Linked DNA regions of Homo sapiens: all the other regions are linked to region 4. Evidence: fine-mapped expression QTL. A gene starts in region 4. Each other region holds a variant in brackets. All regions are shown on one strand. Distances are from middle to middle.

The links.
Region 1: its variant is fine-mapped to the expression of TMEM222 in spinal cord (GTEx, PIP 0.95).
Region 2: its variant is fine-mapped to the expression of TMEM222 in lung (TOPMed, PIP above 0.99).
Region 3: its variant is fine-mapped to the expression of TMEM222 in whole blood (TOPMed, PIP above 0.99).

Annotation. Positions count from the first base shown.
Region 1 is chr1:27,357,922-27,363,069 of GRCh38, reverse strand. MAP3K6 (mitogen-activated protein kinase kinase kinase 6) reads left to right here. Exons shown (of 29, transcript NM_004672.5): 7 at 49-219; 8 at 317-429; 9 at 820-979; 10 at 1,203-1,365; 11 at 1,443-1,550; 12 at 1,675-1,724; 13 at 1,818-1,913; 14 at 2,062-2,149; 15 at 2,232-2,365; 16 at 2,702-2,829; 17 at 3,076-3,212; 18 at 3,548-3,653; 19 at 4,204-4,361; 20 at 4,459-4,651; 1 more. Among named protein-coding and RNA genes, the nearest start is that of MAP3K6, 6.5 kb to the left of the region's middle. RefSeq lists a silencer at 2,161-2,230 and enhancers at 2,321-2,450, 2,545-3,080, 3,081-3,616. The variant G/A (reference allele first, on the strand shown) is at 2,460.
Region 2 is chr1:27,193,489-27,198,636 of GRCh38, reverse strand. No RefSeq gene overlaps it. Among named protein-coding and RNA genes, the nearest start is that of WDTC1-DT, 38 kb to the left of the region's middle. The variant T/C (reference allele first, on the strand shown) is at 2,955.
Region 3 is chr1:27,272,950-27,278,097 of GRCh38, reverse strand. The region is part of intron 3 of WDTC1 (WD and tetratricopeptide repeats 1); the gene reads right to left. Among named protein-coding and RNA genes, the nearest start is that of WDTC1, 41 kb to the right of the region's middle. The variant C/T (reference allele first, on the strand shown) is at 2,100.
Region 4 is chr1:27,319,465-27,324,612 of GRCh38, reverse strand. It overlaps TMEM222 (transmembrane protein 222), which reads right to left and starts at 2,450. Exons shown (of 6, transcript NM_032125.3): 1 at 2,222-2,450. The coding sequence starts at 2,415. It also overlaps the pseudogene ACTG1P20. RefSeq lists enhancers at 1,395-1,941, 2,093-2,442, 1,942-2,489, 2,490-3,036.

The sequences.
Region 1 (5,148 bases), 38 kb before region 4:
GAGTAGGCCAGGGCCATCAGGGAGGGCCTGAGCCCATCTTTTCCCTAGGAGGAACAGGCCTGGGGACCGGGCGAAGGCCCTGTCTGTGCTGCTGCCGCTGGTACAGCTTGAGGGCTCTGTGGCGCCCGATCTGTACTGCATGTGTGGCCGTATCTACAAGGACATGTTCTTCAGCTCGGGTTTCCAGGATGCTGGGCACCGGGAGCAGGCCTATCACTGGTAAAGAGCACAGTGAGTGGCCGGTGGGCTAAGCTGTGAGATGAGGGGTGGTGCTGTGGGCATCAGTCCAGCCCTGTGCCCCCTACCCCCACCCCAGGTATCGCAAGGCTTTTGACGTAGAGCCCAGCCTTCACTCAGGCATCAATGCAGCTGTGCTCCTCATTGCTGCCGGGCAGCACTTTGAGGATTCCAAAGAGCTCCGGCTAATAGGTGAGCACAGATCCTGGCTCTTGTCTCGTCACCCACAGGGGTTCCGAGGGGCCTGGGAAGAGGGCAGGGAGAGAGCACACTGGGCAAGAGCTAGGATGAGCTCATCCATTTTGGACTGTCCTGCCCATACCCACACCTGGGTCCTCATACCTGTTCTGGGCCCTCAGGAGCCCTCAAACCCACAAATGTTCCCAAACTCACATCTGCGTGTCCATTACATCCTGAATTCCACATATACCTGTGCCTGAGCTCCTGTTCCCACCCGAGATCTTGCCATACTCAATGCCATACTCATATCTATGTTCATGTCCACACTCGGGCCCACAGAAATGGTGGGCCTCACTCACCCCTGCACCCACACTCACTGGAGCCCATGCCTCTCTCCCCCAGGCATGAAGCTGGGCTGCCTGCTGGCCCGCAAAGGCTGCGTGGAGAAGATGCAGTATTACTGGGATGTGGGTTTCTACCTGGGAGCCCAGATCCTCGCCAATGACCCCACCCAGGTGGTGCTGGCTGCAGAGCAGCTGTATAAGCTCAATGCCCCCATATGGTAGGTGGCCCCCTCTGCATTCTTGGCCTGACCTGGGCTGTCAGCTCCTGCACCTATGTCCATTGGCATGCTAGACTGAACCCTGAGCCAATGACCTGGCTGCTTTTAGACCAGTGCCCGTGGCACCCCATGCCAACGTTCTAGCTATATCCAGGCCAGTTTCCTCTCCCTGGCAGTGCTGGTTGGTGCCTGGGCTGAACTGAGGATGTGGCTTTGCATGCAGGTACCTGGTGTCCGTGATGGAGACCTTCCTGCTCTACCAGCACTTCAGGCCCACGCCAGAGCCCCCTGGAGGGCCACCACGCCGTGCCCACTTCTGGCTCCACTTCTTGCTACAGTCCTGCCAACCATTCAAGACAGCCTGTGCCCAGGGCGACCAGTGCTTGGTGAGGCCTGTAGGGGTGGTGGACCCGGGAAAGGGGTAAGCCCCTTCTGACTGACCCCACTCCCCAACTGCCTGCAGGTGCTGGTCCTGGAGATGAACAAGGTGCTGCTGCCTGCAAAGCTCGAGGTTCGGGGTACTGACCCAGTAAGCACAGTGACCCTGAGCCTGCTGGAGCCTGAGACCCAGGTGAAGTCGCTGCTGAGGCCCCTCACTCACCTTTGCTAGGACCTTTTCTGTGGAGCCTTTCTCCCATCCTCAGACCCCTCTCCTGTCACCAGCACTCCCCATCACACCCCATTTCTTCTTGCAGGACATTCCCTCCAGCTGGACCTTCCCAGTCGCCTCCATATGCGGAGTCAGGTGATAGGCGGGACCTGGGGTGACTGGAAAGACGGGAGGTGAGGGTCGCTGCCACCCAGCCTGACGCTTACTGGGTTCTTCATCCCTTCCCAGCGCCTCAAAGCGCGACGAGCGCTGCTGCTTCCTCTATGCACTCCCCCCGGCTCAGGACGTCCAGCTGTGCTTCCCCAGCGTAGGGCACTGCCAGTGGTGCGCAGCCTTTCATGGTCGGGGTACTCTGAGGGCCAGGATGCCCGGGGGGGAGTGGGGGAAAGAAAGGGACGACGTCCGTTGGATGCTCCGGCTTAGGTGGGGACCAAGATGCCCCTCCCGCGGGTCTGACCTCCCCCACCTTCAGGTTCTGCGGCCTGATCCAGGCCTGGGTGACGAACCCGGATTCCACGGCGCCCGCGGAGGAGGCGGAGGGCGCGGGGGAGATGTTGGAGGTGAGGACGCGGGACTGGGAGCTCGCGGAGGGCGAGGGGCCGCGGGCCCTGCTGAACTCCCATCTCACCCCGCGCCCGGCAGTTTGATTATGAGTACACGGAGACGGGCGAGCGGCTGGTGCTGGGCAAGGGCACGTATGGGGTGGTGTACGCGGGCCGCGATCGCCACACGAGGGTGCGCATCGCCATCAAGGAGATCCCGGAGCGGGACAGCAGGTGCGGTGCGTGGCAGCGCGGGTGGGGCTGAGGGCTCGCGAGGGCCGAGTGAGCCGGGCCACGAGCGGAGCGGCTCCTGTGGGCGGGGCCTAGT[G/A]GGCGGGCTCGTAGGACCTGAGAGTTCGAGCCCTGTGGACTGGGCCCGTGGGCGGAACAGCCAGGACCGTGCGGGCGGGATTGAGGTCTGGAGGGTCCTGTGGGCAGGGTAGTAAGGGTGGGGAAGGTCGGAGAGGGCTTGTGGGCGGGGCGGGTCCTTGGGGCGGGGCCAGGCTGGCGTGGGATGGGCGGGGCTTCTCTGCCCACCTCGGTCCCTTTCCTCTCTCCCTTACCTCCCCTCAGGTTCTCTCAGCCCCTGCATGAAGAGATCGCTCTTCACAGACGCCTGCGCCACAAGAACATAGTGCGCTATCTGGGCTCAGCTAGCCAGGGCGGCTACCTTAAGATCTTCATGGAGGAAGTGCCTGGAGGTACCTGCCCTGTGTGGGATGGGAATGAAACCGAGGTGTGAAGCATGGGACCGAGGCAGGCAGGGGTAGAGAGCCCTAGGGGGAAATGCACCCTAGTGCGTGTGGGTGGTGTAGCCTAGAATTAGCTGAGGAGTGGCGCTGGGTGATGGAGTTGGGCTACAACATGGGTGTGTCTGGGCCTTGAGCAGAGAGATGTGGGCTGGAGCCAGTGGGTGGGAAGAATGAACTTGGACTGTCCCCACCCAGGCAGCCTGTCCTCCTTGCTGCGGTCGGTGTGGGGACCCCTGAAGGACAACGAGAGCACCATCAGTTTCTACACCCGCCAGATCCTGCAGGGACTTGGCTACTTGCACGACAACCACATCGTGCACAGGGACATAAAAGTAAGCCCTGGGGCTGGCCCGCCCTCATCTGCTGAGGGTGGCGGGGAAGGAAACATGGTCCCAGACGCAGGCTGGCAGTTTAGATTAAGTGAGCAGACCTGTTGCAAAGGGTAGGGAATTCATCAGGGAGGCTCCTTAGAGAAGGAGGGGAAAGGTTCAGCTCTGAAGCCAAACCAATTGTCAGCTCCCAGAGGGGCATATAAGTGGGATGGCAAGGGGAGAGTGTTGACAGAGGCAGGACCAGGCTGGGATCTCCAGGAGATGGGATCCCAGAAAGAGGGTCTACTTCTGCTGGCAGGGGCCCAGACCAGTGTCCACTAATGGCTGTCAATCAGGGGGACAATGTGCTGATCAACACCTTCAGTGGGCTGCTCAAGATTTCTGACTTCGGCACCTCCAAGCGGCTGGCAGGCATCACACCTTGCACTGAGACCTTCACAGGTAACAAGGTGTGGGGGTGGTGAGTGGGGATGCTGACCTGGGGCAGAAGATCTCTTGGAACTTTCCAGGGAAGGGGGTTTCTCCTAGGCATGGAGTTAGAGTCCTAATGGGGAATGAAACCCAGGGTGAGTGATTGGGCCAGGGCTGAGGTGGTGGCATCTGGAACTGGAGCTTGGAGAAGTGATGAAATTGACTTTAGCACTTGAGGAGTGTTGATGCAGGCCAAGGTGGGAGTTGGAGGAAAAAGCAGGTGATGGAGTTCAGGGGGACGAGGCAATCCAGGATGTGTGCTGGAGCACTACTGTGGGTGATGGAGTCTGTGAATGTGGTGGAGCCCAGGATGAATGACGGAAGCCTTGGCAGGCGATGGAGCCCAGGGTGGTGATGGAACTCAGGATAGATGTTTGATGACCAGGATAGGTGTTGAGGTATATTTTGGATGATAGGTTCAGTATGGGTGCAGTCGGCCTGAGGATGACGGCATTCCCCTCCCTGCTCCAACCCCATGATGAAGCCTAGATGGGCATTGGTGCTCCTGTTTCTGTCCTAGGAACTCTGCAGTATATGGCCCCAGAAATCATTGACCAGGGCCCACGCGGGTATGGGAAAGCAGCTGACATCTGGTCACTGGGCTGCACTGTCATTGAGATGGCCACAGGTCGCCCCCCCTTCCACGAGCTCGGGAGCCCACAGGCTGCCATGTTTCAGGTGAGACCTCTTTGGGCCTGGCCCATGGAAGTGGCATAGGGCCAGCCTGGGCCTTGGACACCTCTGAATGTCACCCTTGTTCACCCTCCCCCCACAGGTGGGTATGTACAAGGTCCATCCGCCAATGCCCAGCTCTCTGTCGGCCGAGGCCCAAGCCTTTCTCCTCCGAACTTTTGAGCCAGACCCCCGCCTCCGAGCCAGCGCCCAGACACTGCTGGGGGACCCCTTCCTGCAGCCTGGGAAAAGGAGCCGCAGCCCCAGCTCCCCACGACATGCTCCACGGCCCTCAGGTGCTTGCGGGTGGCGGGATGGGCACAGTGGAGGGCAGAGGAGTTGTGGAGCTGTGAGGGTGGAGGAGAGCCCAGCTGATGGCTCTGTCCCTCCCTCAGATGCCCCTTCTGCCAGTCCCACTCCTTCAGCCAACTCAACCACCCAGTCTCAGACATTCCCGTGCCCTCAGGCACCCTCTCAGCACCCACCCAGCCCCCCGAAGCGCTGCCTCAGTTATGGGGGCACCAGCCAGCTCCGGTGAGACCAAGGCTCCTGGGATGGGTTCCTTTTGCCTGGTTTTGCCTTTTTCTCCTCTCCTACAAAAGCCCTCCCTGGGGACCTGGGCACCTTGACCACTTGTGAATGTGGCATTTGGTGCCTCCCCATGCCCTGTTCTGGCAACTCTAACTTGGACTTGTTGTGTCCTCTCAGTGCGGGGTTTATCTATGTTCATGCCTGTGAGGTAGGCATAAAAGTAGGAGAGCCAGGATTCAAACCCGGCAACAGAGGTGACTGG
Region 2 (5,148 bases), 130 kb after region 4:
AATACAAAAATTAGCTGGGCGTGGTGACATGCGCCCATAGTCCCAACTACTCGGGAGGCTGAGGCAGAAAAATCGCTTGAACCCAGGAGGCGGAGGTTGCAGTGAGCTGAGATCACGTCATTGTACTCCAGTCTGGGCAACAAGAGCAAAACTCCGTCTCAAAAAAAAGGAAAAAGAAAAAGAAAACCAGATCTAGACTAGTCCTACATTCTATGGTCAGGAAGACTGAGACCCAGAAATACATCAGTGACTTGAGTAAGATCACACCATGCAATGGGTGGGAATCTGTAGATGTGATTTGGTGAGCATTACAGGTTAAGTGCACCACACTTAGAAACAGACAGACCTGGGTCTCTGGTACTGGCTTAACCACAAAACTCTACAACTTGGATAACTTCTCTGGACCTCATATCTCTTCTGTAAAAGGAGGCGTTTACTTTGTATTTCTCTGCTGTAAAATCTCTTCTAATCCTTCACGTCCAGAGGTTCTAATTCGGTACTTTGTGTGCCCTCCTCTCACAGTGCCACCTTGTGGCTCACTATGAACCCTGCATCTTCTCTTCCTAAATTAAAATCTTTGTCATAGAGGATAGAAACCCTTGTAATAGCGGACCATTCCCTTACTGTGAGTGATCTGGCTAACAGATCCCACTCCGATCTACTTTCCATGTGTAAGATGTGGGCATCACTTCAGTGCTGACACAGCTAGAAGATGTCGCAGGGCTTTTCCTGACCACCTGTCACACTCTACATTCACAGAACCAGGACTTTGTGACAGTGCTTTGGGTGGAGCTGTATCTTAATTTTCATTTTAAAAGTCTCCTCCTGGCTGGGTGCGGTGGCTCACGCCTGTAATCCCAGCACTTCGGGAGGCCGAGGCGGGAGGATCACCTGAGGTCAGGAGTTCAAGACCAGCCTGGCCAACATGGTGAAACCCCGTCTCTACTAAAAATACAAAAATTAGCTGGGCGTGGTGGCAGGCACCTGTAATCCCAGCTACTTGGGAGGCTAAGGCAGGAAAATTGCTTGAACCTGGGAGGCGGAGGTTGCAGTGAGCTGAGATTGCACCACTGCATCCCAGCCTGGGCGACAAGAGTGAAACTCCGTCTCAAAAATAAAATAAAAGAAAATAAAAGTCTCCTCCTGCCCTGTGTCTGGTCTGTGGCATGACACTCACCTCCTTTGCCAGGCCCCAAGTTTGATTTATTTTTTCTCTTTCTCTGGACACAGCTCAGCTTATGACCAAGAGAGGAAACGGCAGGAGGAAGGCCATGAGCCTGTTAACATCAAGCTGGGGGAAGTGCCAGAAAGATTCCCAAGGTCCCTAACCTCAACAGCTCTGTGACCTTGGACAAGTTATTTAATTTTTCTTTCTTTCTTTCTTTCTTTCTTTTTTTTTTTTTTTTGAGATGGAGTCTCGCTCTGTCACCAGGCTGGAGTGCAGTGGCATGATCTCGGCTCACTGCAACCTCCACCTTCCGGGTTCAAGCAATTCTCCTGCCTCAGCCTCCCAAGTAGCTGGGACTACAGGCGCATGCCGCCACGCCCAGCTAATTTTTTGTATTTTATTAGAGACGGGGTTTCACCGTGTTGCCCACGCTGTTCTCCAACTCCTGAACTCAGGCAATCCGCCCGCCTCGGCCTCCCAAAGTGCTAGGATTACAAGCGTGAGCCACCACACCCGGCAAGTTATTTAATTTTTCTAAGCCTTAGGTTGCATCGTGGAGATAAAATTACTTGTCTCCCAGGTAGTTCTGAGAATTAGAAATACAGCTATGTGGGCCAGGTGTGGTGGCTCAAGCCTGTAATCCCAGAACTTTGGGAGGCTGAGGCAGGCGGATCACGAGGTCAGAAGTTCGAGACCAGCCTGGCTAATAGGGTGAAACCCCGTTTCTACTAAAAATACAAAAATTAGCCAGGCGTGGTGGTGTGTGCCTGTAGTCCCAGCTACTTGGGAGGCTGAGGCAGAAGAATCACTTGAACCTGGGAGGTGGAGGTTGCAGTGAGCCAAGATCACGCCACTGCACTCCAGCCTGGGTGACAGAGTGAGACTCCGTCTCAAAAAAAAAAAAAAGAAAAGAAAAAGAAAAAGAAATACAGCTATGCGTTACTTAACAACAAGGATACATTCTGAGAAATGCGTTATTAGGCGATTTCATCATGTAAACATCATAGAGTGTACTTACACAAACCTAGGTAGTATGGCCTCCTACACACCTAGGCTATATGGCACAGCCTATTGCTTCTAGGCTACAAACCTATACACCATGTTAGCGTACTGAACACCGTAGGCAATTGTAACATGATGGTAAGTATTTGTGTATCTAAACATACCCAATCATAAAAAAGGTACAATAAAAACATGGTGTTCCAATCTTATGGAACTACTGCTGTATATGTGGTCTGTAGTTGAGTAAAACATCATTATGCAGTACCTGACTGTAATATATGTAAAGTAATTAGTGCATAGTAGGTGATAAATAAATGGTAGTTGGTTATAATCACATACACCTTCTATTTACTCACCACTAATCTCTGAACTCTAGGGGATGCGGAAGAGCTAGAGAAGAGAACCTAGCTGGCTTCCACACTGGTTGCAGAGAGCAGGTCACTGGAGGCAGGATATAATGAAATGCAAATGGCAGGTCACAGCCTGTGAGTGCTGCAGGAGCACAGTGCCAGCAGAGAATAATCATTCTCACGTCTCCATAACACATCGCAGTGTTTACATTGTCCTTTAACATCTTTCTTTCTTTTTTTTTTTTTTTTTGAGATGGAGTTTCGCTCTTGTCGCCCAGGCTACAGTGCAATGGCACAGTCTCGGCTCACTGCAACCTCTGCCTCCCAGGTTCAAGCAATTCTCCTGCCTCAGCCTCCTGAGTAGCTGAAATTACAGGCATGTGCCACCACGCCCTACTAATTTTTGTGTTTTTAGTAGAGATAGGGTTTCGCCA[T/C]GTTGGCCAGGCTGGTCTCGACCTCCTGACCGCAGATGATCCGTTCGCCTTGGCCTCCCAAAGTGATGGGATTCTAGGCATGAGCCACTGCGCCCGGCCAATTGTCCTTTAACATTTATAATTTTACTTATAACAACTGTGAGGTAGATATTAACGTTATCATCTCCATTTTACAATGACATGCCCAAGGTTGTATCACTAAGAAGTGGCAGAGGTGGCTTGAGCTTGGGGCATCCTCACTCAGAGGCTGCCTTCTTTTTACTCCCCAGAGAGTTTTCTAGATAACAAGTCTAGAAAGATAGGTCTTGAAGGGTGAGAGGCATCGGAGAAGCAGAGAAGGCTATTTAAGCAGTGACACTATCAAGAAACGGAAAAGGGTGGAAATTGGACCAGTGACCACCAGCAGTCCTCCAGGTAGGGAGAATGCCCTGATTCTATACCCTAAGATACACTAAGGACCTCTAGCCCAGCCTGGTTGGACAGAAGTCAGGGAGGCTTTCCTGGAGAAAGCAACATCCGAGCTGAGGCCTGAATGATGAGCAGGAGTTGGCCTGAGCTCCCAGGCAAAATAACTATCAGGAGCACATTTGGGGAACTGGAAATAGTTCAAAGAGGCAGGAGCAGAGTATGGCTAAGAATGAGGCTGTGGTCAGATGGGGCAGGGCTTTGTAACCCACATTAAGATCTTGGACTTTATCTCAGGCCACTAAGGACTCAATGCTTTGTTTACCGAGAAAATTTGAGCTTTACACCAATCACTGATTGCAATATGGAGACTGACTGGCAGGGGCCAAACTGGAGGCAGGAGGCTGGTGAGAAAGTTGGTGCAGTAACCCAGTGAAAATAGGAGGGTTGCCTGGTAGGGGGGGTGTAGCAAATATTGGGAGATATGAGCAGATTTAGGAGATAATTAAGAGGCAGAATGGAGGCCAGGCACGGTGGCTCATGCCTGTAACCCCAGCACTTTGGGAGGCAGAGGTGGGAGGACTACTTGAGCCTAGGAGTTCGAGACCAGCCTGGGCAACAGAGTGAGACCCTGTCCCAAAAACTTTTAAAAAGAGGCAGAGTGGACTGGAGTTGGTGATTAATTGAACACTGGAAGTAATGGGGAGTCGGGGAGCAGAGGTGGGAAGAAAGAAGGAGGAGGTGAGGGTATCTTCCAGTTCCTGGCTGGAGCAGCTGGTTGGGTGGCTGTATCAATCCCTGGGCTGGGGAAGATGAGGGAGAAGTCCCTGAAGAGAGGACAAAGGAGCAAGGCTTTGAGGGGTAAGACGAATTTAGCAGCTGATGGAAGCGGGAGTGTCAAATGCTCTTAGTGAAAGCAAGCTGAATTTTCCCTTTGTATTCATTCAACACATATTTGTGACTGGGGGTGGGAGCTCACACCTGTAATCCCAGCACTTTGGGAAGCTGAGGTGGGTGGATCACTTGAGGCCATGAGTTCAAGATCAGCCTGGCCAACATGGTGAAACCTCTGCCCCTACTTAAAATACAAAAATTAGTGAGGCATGGTGGCAAAAGCATGTAATCCCAGCTACTCAGGAGGCTAAAGCAGGAGAATCGCTTGAACCTGGGAGGTGGAGGTTGCAGTGAGCCGAGATCGTGCCACTGCACTGCAACCTGGGTAACAGAGCAATACTCTGTCTCAAAAACAAAAAACAAAAAACAAACAAACAAAAAAACCCACATATTTGTTAGGGGCCTACTATATGTCAGGCACCATCCCAGGCACTGAGAATACAGCAGTGAACAAAACAGACCAGGTCCTGTCCTCCTGGAGTTTACATTCTAGTGGGTGGAGACAGACAATAAGCAAAGAAATGTCTATAAATATGTCAAGGCGTGGTAGGTGCTATGAAGACAAATTAGACTGATTATGAGGCTACACATGGAGGTTGTCATTTGGATAGGGTGATCAGAGAAGGCTTCTCTGATTTTTAGGCAGAGACCTGAATGAAGTGAGGAGGGACACATGCAGATATGGCGACGCACCCTTCTGGGCAAAAAGAAGGGCATGGCTTTGAGGTCAGAGATTCTCTCCATGCTGTGACCACTCCAGTCACGGCAGGGGTCAGAAATAGGCACTGAATACCCTGAAAGGAATAAGGATTTTACTATAAAACCATTTCCTTCTCCCCTGAAAGATGAAATTCCCCCAGAGCACTTTTAAACCCATGCAGTCTTCTGAAGACTT
Region 3 (5,148 bases), 47 kb after region 4:
GCTGAGTTGGGCTGATCATTTGAGGTCAGGGGTTTGAGACCAGCCTGGCCAACATGGTGAAACCCCATCTCTACTAAAACACAAAAAAAATTAGCTGGGTGTCATCATGCATGCCTGTAATCCCAGCTACACAGGAGGCTGAGGCAGGAGAATCGCTTGAAACCAGGAAGTGGAGGTTGCGGTGAGCCAAGATCATGCCACTGCACTCCAGCCTGGGCAACAGAGTGAGACTCTGTCTCAAAAAATTTTTTTCAAATTAAAATAAAATAAAGCTCATATGGAAATACCAGAGACCCAGAATAGACAAAACAATCTTGAAAAATGAACAAAGTTGAAAGACTCATACTTCCCAATTTTATAACTTACTACAATGCTACAGCAATCAAAACAGTGTGGTACTGGCATAAGAATAGACATTTAGATCAATGGACTAGAGTTGAGAGTTCATAAATACATCCTTAAATTTACAGTCAATTGATTTCTGATAAGAGTATCAAGACAGGCTGGGAACAGGGGCTTGTACCTATAATCCCAGCTATTTGGGAGACTAAGACAGGAAGATCACTTGAGACTAAGAGTTTGAGACCAGCCTGTGCAACATAGCCAGACTCCGTCTCTTAAAAAAAAAAGAGTGTCAAGCAATTAAGTAGAAGGAAAGAATAGTCTTTTTAGCACATGGTGCCAGGACAAGTGGATGTCCACATGTAAAAGAATGAAGTTGGATCCTTACCTCACACCATACATAAAAATTAATTCAAATGGATCAAAGACCTACATATAAAATCTAAAACTACAAAACTCTTAGAAGAAAACACAGGTGTATATATTCATGACCTTGGATTAGGCAATGTTTTTTAAGACACAACACCAAAAGCACCAGCAACAAAAGAAAAAAAGTTTAGTTGGGCATGGTGGTGTGCGCCTGCAGTCCCAGCTACTCAAGAGGGTGAGATGGGAGGATTGCTTGAGCCTGGGAGGGTAAGGCTGCAGTAAGCCATGACTGTGCCACTGCACTCCAGTGAGGGTTACAGAGACAGATCCCATATCAATTAAAAAAAAAAAATAAAACATAAATTGAATTTCATTAAAATTAAAACTTTTATGCAAAGTCACCATTTAAAAATGAAAAGACAACACACAAAGGAAAAGAAACAAAATTTCAAATCATACATATCTTATAACTCAACAATAAAAAAGGACAACCCAATTAAAAAATGAGTGAAGCATCTCAACAGACATTTCTCCAAAGAAAATACACAAATATGACAACAAGCACATGAAAACATGCTCAACATCATTAGTCATTAGGGAAATGAAAATCAAAACCACAATGAGATACCACTTCACACCCACCAGGAGGGCTATAATAAAAAAAAAATTTTTTTTTCTTTTCTTTTTTTTTTTCGAGACGAAGTCTTGCTCTGTCACCCAGGCTGGAGTGCAGTGGCGCAATCTCGGCTCACTGCAATCTCCTCCTCCTGGGTTCAAGCAATTCTCCTGCCTCAGCCTCCCAAGTAGCTGGGACTACAGGTGTGTGCCACCACACCTGGCTAAGTTTTGTATTTTTAGTAGAGATGGGGTTTCACTGTGTTAGCCAGCATGGTCTCAATCTCCTGACCTTGTGATCTGCCTGCTTCGGCCTCCCAAAGTGTGGGATTATAGGCATAAGTCACCGCGCCTGGCCTATAATAAAAAATATTGATAATAAGAAGTGTTGGCAAGGATGCAGACAAATTGGAACCCTCACACATTTCTGGTGGGAATGTAAAATGGTGGTACCACTTTGGAAAACAGTTTGGCAGTTCCTCAAAAAAGTTAAACACTGAGTTACCATATGACCCAGCAATTCCACCCTTCGGTATATACCAAGAAAAGTGAAGAAAACATGTCCACACAAAAACTTGTACATGAAGGTTCATAGCAGCATTATTTATAATAGCCAAAAAATAGAAACAACCACATGTTCCACCAACTGATGAATGGATAGACAGAATGTGGTACATCCAAATGATGGAATGCTATTTGGCCGCAAAAAAGAGAAGTACAGATTCATACTATAACATAGATGAATCTTAAAAGCATTATGCTAAAAAGCCACA[C/T]ACTTTATAATTTCATTTACGTGAAATGTTCAGAATAGGAAAATCCATTGCAACAGAAAATAGATTAGTGGTTTCTGGGGTAGGGCCAGTATGGGAGAAGGAAGTGACTGCTAAGATGGGTAAGAGGTTCCTTTTTGGGGTGATGAAAACATCCTGGAATTAGATAGCAGGGATGGTTGCAAAACTTTGTGAGTATAGTTTGTGAATAGTCAAAACCACTCAATTAAATAAAATAACAAACAAGCAAACAGGCGACATTCTGGATTTGGCCCACTGGCCACAAATTGCTGATCTGGATTTAAAGGACAGTCCTCACGAAAGGAAATCTCTCACAAAGTCAGATCCCCGCTCCATCTTTTTCTTTATTTTTTTTTTTTTTTTGAGACAGAGTCTCACTCTGTCGCCCAGGTTAGAGTGCAGTGGTGCAATCTCGGCTCACTGCAACCTCCGCCTCCTGGGTTCAAGCAATTCTCCTGCCTCAGCCTCCCAAGTGCTGGGATTACAGGTGCCTGCCATCATGCTTGGCTAATTTTTCGTATTTTTAGTAGAGAAGGGGTTTCACCATGTTGGCCAGGCTGGCATCTTTTTCTTTAAACATGACTGTTTAATGAACTTGGTATCTAGTTTACTTCTCTAAAATGGTATTACCTTAAAAAGCTCTGACAAGTCTTTGTTAGAATAAGGTTACACTATGCCCATGGAACTGCTCTGGTCTACCAAAGCTATTCACAAAGGAAATCAATCTAGTTTCATATGACTTGTTTCCATAAATTCATAATTTGAATGTATGCTAAAATAATATAAGAAACAAAATGGAAAAAGCAAGCAGGCCAGATTGTAAAGGTGAGATAGATACATAATGTTTGCAATTGTTTAAGGATAATATGAAGAAAACTAATAAGGCAAGAGAATAAATCCACCAAGCCAGGAACTATCTATTAAGCCATTTTTAAAACAGACATATGGTTGAGGTGGAAAGGATATGAACTCTGCAGCCAGATAAGCCTGATATAAATCTTTTAAATCTTATTTCTACCACTTATCTGACCTTAGAAATGCTGAGTTTTACTCTGATTTGTAAAGTGAGATTCCTTTCTTCTTCTCTCTACCATGTGTCTAATACGGTGCCAAGAAATCCCACAAGTGAATGAAATAGCAGGAATCAAAGTGTGATCACAACTTCCAAGGTGATCTTGGGAGATCCCTGGTAATACATACAAAATGAAAGCAAGCAACTCCCCAAAAAAGTGAGGACTGCAGGCCATGGCTGGAATCCCAGGATATTTGGTTCTTGTCAGTTGTGACAATAAAACTCATGAGATGAGCTGGCACATGTAACTAAAGAGGGATGTGGAATGCTCAGCAAAAATGTCCAAGGAAAGTGGAAAACTGATTGGGTCTTATATACTAGAACGGCTTAAATTAATCCTCATTAATTTAAATTTAAATTGTTTAATCTCAACCTCCCTTCTGGCTCTCTTACTTGGTTGCTGCCACTACAACAGTTCTTTGTATTTTCTTTTACTTTTAAAAAATGTTTTATGGAGATGGGGTCTTGCTGTGTTGCCCAGGCTGGTCTCAAACTCCTGGCCTCAAATGATTCTCCTGACTGCCAAAGTATGGGGTTATAGGCATGAGCCACTGTGCCCCAGCCAGTTCTCTGTATTTTCTTTTCTTTTTTCTTTCCCTCTCTCTCTCTCTCTTTTTTAAAGACAGTGTCTCCTTCCATTGCCCAGGCTGGAGTAAGTGGTATGATCATGGCTCACTGCAGCCTCAACCTCCTAGGCTCAAGCAATCCTCCCATGTTAGACTCCCTAGTAGCTGGGAGTACAAGCACACACCACCACACCTGGTTAATTTTTGTATTTTTTTGTAGAGATGAGGTCCTGTTATGTTGCCCAGGCTGGTCACAATTCTGGGCTCAAGTGATCCTCCCACCTCAGCCTCCAAAGTGATAGGATTACAGGTGTGAGCCACTATGCTCAGCCCTTTGTATTTTCCTAATGAACAATTTAAACTTTCTATTTTGAAACAATTTCAAACATAAAAAGTTTGCAAGAATAGTATAAGAATGCCCATATATACATTTTACCTAATTGATAAATTAAATAATCTTTTTCCCTCTCCCTCCCTCTCCTTTCTCTCTCTCTACACACGCACACACACACACACACACACGTGTAAAGTACTTAGTACTTTTTTTCTGAACCATTTGAGAAATCAGTTGTAGACTTCAGGACCCCTTACACTTAAATACTTCAGTGTATAATTCTTAAGAACATTGGTCATTCTTTTATTTAACCAGCGCATATTTATCAAAATCAGAAAATTTAACACTGATACAATACTGTTGTCTAACGTATAGTCCATATTCAAATTTCACTAACTGTCCAATAATGTCCATTTTATTTTCCTCATTCAGAATCCAATCCAGGATCACACACTGCATTTGGTTTATGTTTTCTTAATGTCATTAAGAAAATTAGTCACTGGCCGGGCACGGTGGCTCACGCCTGTAATCCCAACACTTTGGGAGGCTGAGGCAGGCAGATCACGAGGTCAGGAGATCAAGACCATCCTGGCTAACATGGTGAAACCTCGTCTCTACTAAAAATACAAAAAATTAGCCGGGCGTGGTGGCGGGCGCCTGTAGTCCCAGCTACTTGGTAGGCTGAGGCAGGAGAATGGCGTGAACCTGGGAGGCAGAGGTTGCAGTGAGCCAAGATCGTGCCACTGCACTCCAGCCTGGCTGACAGAGCGAGACTCCATCTCAAAAAAAAAAAAAAAAAAAAGAAAAGAAAAAGAAAATTAGTCATTTTCTGTTTCTTTTAATCTGAGACAGTTCCTCAGCCCTTTTTTGTTTCCTATGACACTGAAATTTTTGAAGACTATATCAACTTTTGCCCTGTCCCAAGACTAGAATTAGTTATTTCTCCAAGGATCCCTGCTTCCTTTTAATAGAGAATGGCATTTAGAAACTAGTAACCCATAATTACTATGGTATTACTGCTTCTAAATTACCTTTGCGTGGACAGAGCTGGAAATAATA
Region 4 (5,148 bases):
GAAGGGAACATGAACCCTTTGACAGGAACACAGTGTCTTATTCATCTTGGTCTTATGAACACCTGTACACAGATCTGAATAGAAATGGGCTATGAGCTGCTTTTGGCCCAGGTGACAAGGGATTGTGGTGCCTCCACCTCACGCTGCTACCATTCTCCGCAGAGGACCACGCCACAGATGGTGTTTTTGAGAATAAGAAAGGCTAAAGAGAGTTTAGGATCACAAGACAGGTTTTAAGAAAACCAATACATTTCCTGAGTATCCCTCCCAGTTATTTTCTTTTTTTTTGAAACGGAGTTTTGCTCTTGTTGTCCAGGCTGGAGTGCAAAAGCACGATCTTGGCTCACCGCAACCTCCACCTCCCGGGTTCAAGTGATTCTCCTGCCTCGGCCTCCTGAGTAGCTGGGATTACAGGCATGTGCCACCACCCCGGCTAATTTTGTATTTTTAGTAGAGATGGGGTTTCTCCATGTTGGTCAGGCTTGTCTTGAACTCCTGACCTCAGGTGATTCGCCCGCCTGGGCCTCCCAAAGTGCTGGGATTACAGGCCTGAGCCACCACGCCCGGCCCCTGTTATTTTCACACTAATATTTTATTTTCTTCACAGCACTCATCACTATCAGGTGCTCTTTTATTAGCTTACTTGTTTACTGTCTATCTCCTTCCACTATGACTTAAACTCTCAAAAGTCTAAAGACCATATCTCCTTTATTCATCACTGTATATTCGCATCACCTAGAACTATCTGGGAACACAGGGGTCACTTAGCACATGTGTTAGAAGAACACTGAATGAATTAATGTGCACATTTTCCTAAGATTTTATTTCACTATTTATTTTGAGACGGAGTTTCACTGTGTTGCCCATGCTGAAGTGCAGTGGTGCAATCTCGGCTCACTGCAAACTCCACTTCCCGGGTTGAGGCGATTCTCCTGCCTCAGCTTCCAGAGTAGCTGGGATTACAGGCACGTGCCACTATGCCCAGCTAATTTTTGTATTTTTAGTAGAGACGGGTTTCGCCACGATGGCCAGGTTGGTCTCGAACTACCTACCGATCCACCCTCCACTGCCTCCCAGAGTGCTGGGATTACAGGCATGAGCCACCGCGCCTGTCCCAATATTTTATTTTTAAAGAACAGATTTGGATGCTCTTATATGCATAAGTACTTGAAAACACAAAATAATTCAAGTATTTTAACATAATTCAAAAACTACGATCTTTTTAGAATCAGCAACACCTAAGGCCCCAAATGATCCCTTCTCCACATCACCACTGGCTGTTATTGATAGCGGAACAAGCTATCCCATCAGGTGAGAGTGGATAAGATGTAGTGCAAAGAGCAAGTTAGATCAGAAGACTGAGCTCTTCATGCCTTTGCTTATTGGGGTGCGAACCTGATCAAGACACTTAATGCTACAAGCAGCTCAGCTTCACCATCTGAGAAGATAACCTACCTTAGAAAATGGATGTTTAATTCTGATAAAATGGGTGTTTAAGAGCTTGGCAAACTATCCAGCACGGTGAGGAGGGGTTACGTTTATCAGCTGTCAAGGTTGAAGCAGGAGGGCAAACCACCTCTCCCCATATGAGAGCTCCTCCCAAAAGGCGCCAAGTAGTACCAGAGCACCTGCTTCTCCCCTGACAAAGGCTGATGTTACAGAAAGAACTTTGGTCTGGGAGGCAGACAACCTGGGATCTAAACCCAGTTTGCAACTGAGATGGCACGTGAGACAAAGGGTTGGACTCTCAGATCTCTGGGGGCCCTTCCAATGTTGACATCCCAGGATCTCGTGTGGTCCCAACCAAACTCCCACTCTTGCTCCCAGACCCAGCAGTATGTCTGGAATATGGTAAGCGACCAGTAAGCATTTGCTCAATGAGAGAATAAACCAGTGAATTAATAAAAATGTCTCCTCAGATCCGATAAGGGGCTCCCTCTTCTACACACTCACAGCTCGAGTCTCCCAGCCACTTGCCCTTTCCTGCTGGCCTACAACTCTCTCCCTGGCTACACCAGGTGTATTGAGAGCAGGGAGCGTGTCCCAGCCGTGTGCACAAACTGGCACTACATGGATGGCGGGGTTCTGGTGACTGGGCGAGGCGTGCGGGCCAGACCCGAGGAAAAGGCTTGCTGCGCGTTGGGGCCGGAGGCTAGCCCGGCCCGACTCCGGCTCTCCCTGGGCCCTCCTCGTCCCCAGGCGGATGCCGGAAGAGACTCACGTGAGCACCGGGATGGGCGTCCACACCACGCAGTAGGGGAAGCGACTCCGTTCCACATCCATGGCGACGCCGCCGGAGCCTTGATATTGCTTCATGTCCGTCTCGGCCGCCGTCGGCGCCTCCACTTCCGCCATCCTGGGCGGGGGTGGCGGCGGCGGCAACAAGAGCAGAGAACTCCCTTCCGCTTCCGCCATGCGGCGCGCGCCCCGCTCCGACTGGCCCCGGCTCTGGTGCCGCTCGTCCCCATGGCGTCACTTCCCGGAGATGGGGTCCGCCCCGCTTGGCCTTCCCCCGGGAATCCGAGCCGCGTTCCTCTGGGCCCGGCCAGCCCCGCCCCACTCCCTATGCGCCTGCCAGCCCCGAGTCTTTGCCGCTTATGCCCCGCGGCTGCAGAAGGGATGCTCTCAGGCAGTTCGCAGTCTAGCGCCGGAGACTTATAGAGAACTCTAATTCAGTACGCTGAGGGCTCCTAGGAGGTGTGGTACAGTCGCTATTTATTGAGCACTTCTTAGGTGCCAAGCACTTGACATGAATTGTTTCTAATCCCCATAAACTAATTAGACATCCAAATTAGGTATTCCCTCCTGTTACAGGTGAGAAACTGAGGTTCAAAAGGTGAGAGACCACGATGCAAACCCAAGTCTTTTTTTTTTTTTTTTTTTCTGAGGCGGAATTTTTTCTCTTGTTGCCCAGGCTGGAGGGCAATGGCACAATCTCGGCTCACTGCAACCTCCACCTCCCAGGTTCAGGCGATCCTGCCTCGGCCTCCCGAGTAGCTGGGATAACAGGCGCGTGCCACCACGCCCGGCTAATTTTTGTATTTTTAGTAGAGGTGGCGTTTCACCATGTTAGCCAGGATGGTCTCAAACTCCTGACCCTGTGATCCGCCCGCCTTGGCCTCCCAAAGTGCTGGGATTACAGGCGTGAGCCACCGCGCCTGGCCCAAACCCAAGTCTTATACCTCCCTTGCCCTTTTCATTCTGTGGCCCTCTCACGAGGTAGTGGTAGCATAAAGGAAGACACACACAGTTGTGTGTGCGCACGTGTGTGTGTGTGTGTGTTTTATTGTATATACAGGGAAGACTTGCTGGAAGATAGGATATTATTGAGTTGAGTCTTGATGTTTGCCATGTGGCACAGGAGTGGAAGTATGAGTGCAGCGGTACAAAGAAAGGAAGGCCGTGCAGAGCAGTGTGTGCAAGAGTGTGAATACTTACTGGAGTAAATCATAAGCCTTAGATGTGATCCAATCCCTTCATTGTACAAATGGGAAAACGGGCTCAGGGAAGTTAATTGTTTGAGATCACACACAACCATAATTAGAGAGAAGCCAGGCTCAAATGTTGGAGACTTTTGGCTTTTTAAAGGATGTCAAGACAAAGAAAATGAAGTCTACTGGGGTCTACTGGGGTGGGGAGGGGAAGTTGGGGACAGCCCAAAGTCAGAAGGAAGGCTGCCACTAAAAATCAGCCTTAAAGAAAAAAAAAAAAGAATAAAAAGAGTAATCAGGTAAAGGAAGGTATGGACAAATGCACTCAGGAAGTTAGGAGCTTCCCATTTGGGGAAGGTCCTTCTTCCACTGAATTACCCTCCCTCAATGCTGATCTATGGAGAGCTTGCTGTCCTGTTTGTAGCACCTAATATTTTCATGTTTTTTTGTGGGGGATGTCTGTCTCTGCTATAGAACTCTAAGGTCCTTGACTTCAGTAGCTGGCACAGTTCCTGGTGCAAAGCATATGCCCACTAGATGTTTACTGATTTATTAGGTGATTGAATAAATGGATGTTTTATAAAGACCTCAGAGATTCGCAGGCATGATAATGATTACAGTGGGTTAGAAAATGATTCTAACCCACTCCAAATTCTTTGAGCACGTTTGTACCTCTCCTTGACCCCTGTGCAGTGTGTGATCCTTGAAGGGCAACAACCAGCATCCAGCACAGGGTTTGGAATAGATTAGGTGTGTAGTTTACAGTTGTTGAGAATAAATTACATGACTTCTTGATTCAATCACTGTAGTTATCTAATCTCTTCTGGACCACAGGCTGTGAGGAAGGTCTGTGCCTTAGACATCTCCCTACCATGACTGTCAGCCCATAATTCTAGCACAGGGTTGCTGGGTACCCTTTAAACATTTATTGTAGGTATTGATGAATAAACAACCAAAGTAAGTCTCTCAGGGCCTGCCACAAGTTTGGTAGTACTAATACACGTACCACATTTAATCTGCCAAACTTCAATGGCTTCCCGTTGCACTTCGTATGAAACACAAATATCTTACTATGGCTCACAAAGCCCTGCACCATCTGGACCCATGCCCCTTCCTTATTTACTATACTACAGCCATCCTGGCCTTTTCTTTCAGTTCCTCTCATGCACTCCTTCATATTCCAGGGACTTGGCACACACTGTTCCCCTCTGCCTGAAATACTACTCCTATCTACTTAAAGCGGCTAACTTTCATTCTTCCAGTCTCAGATCAAATATTACTTTCTCAGCCCATCCCTGGTCTCCCAATCTAAATGAGAAAGCCCCCATTAATCTCCTGTTCTTTTTCTTCATAGCTTCTTTGTAGCTATGTACTATTTGCCTCCCCCACTTGACTGGAAACTCTATTTGTCTTGCTAACGTGTGTATACCCAATGCCCAGTATAGTGCCTAGTGCATGGTATTTGTTTAATCAATATTTGTTAAATTGAATGAAAGGCAAATACTTACAGGCTTGGTATCACGTGCTGGTTACAGTCTAAACGCAGGAACCTGCTACCTCTTGGTGTCCCAAACCTTTTCAATGGGCTTGGGTTGGTGGGAACAGTGCTCAGGCAGAGGATCAGACCACAGAGCCCTGGCTCCTTTCCTAAGGTCCACGTCATCCTACCCTTGGCCTAGGCAGCTGCAGAAACGTGGCATGAGGAGGGCCGGGTACC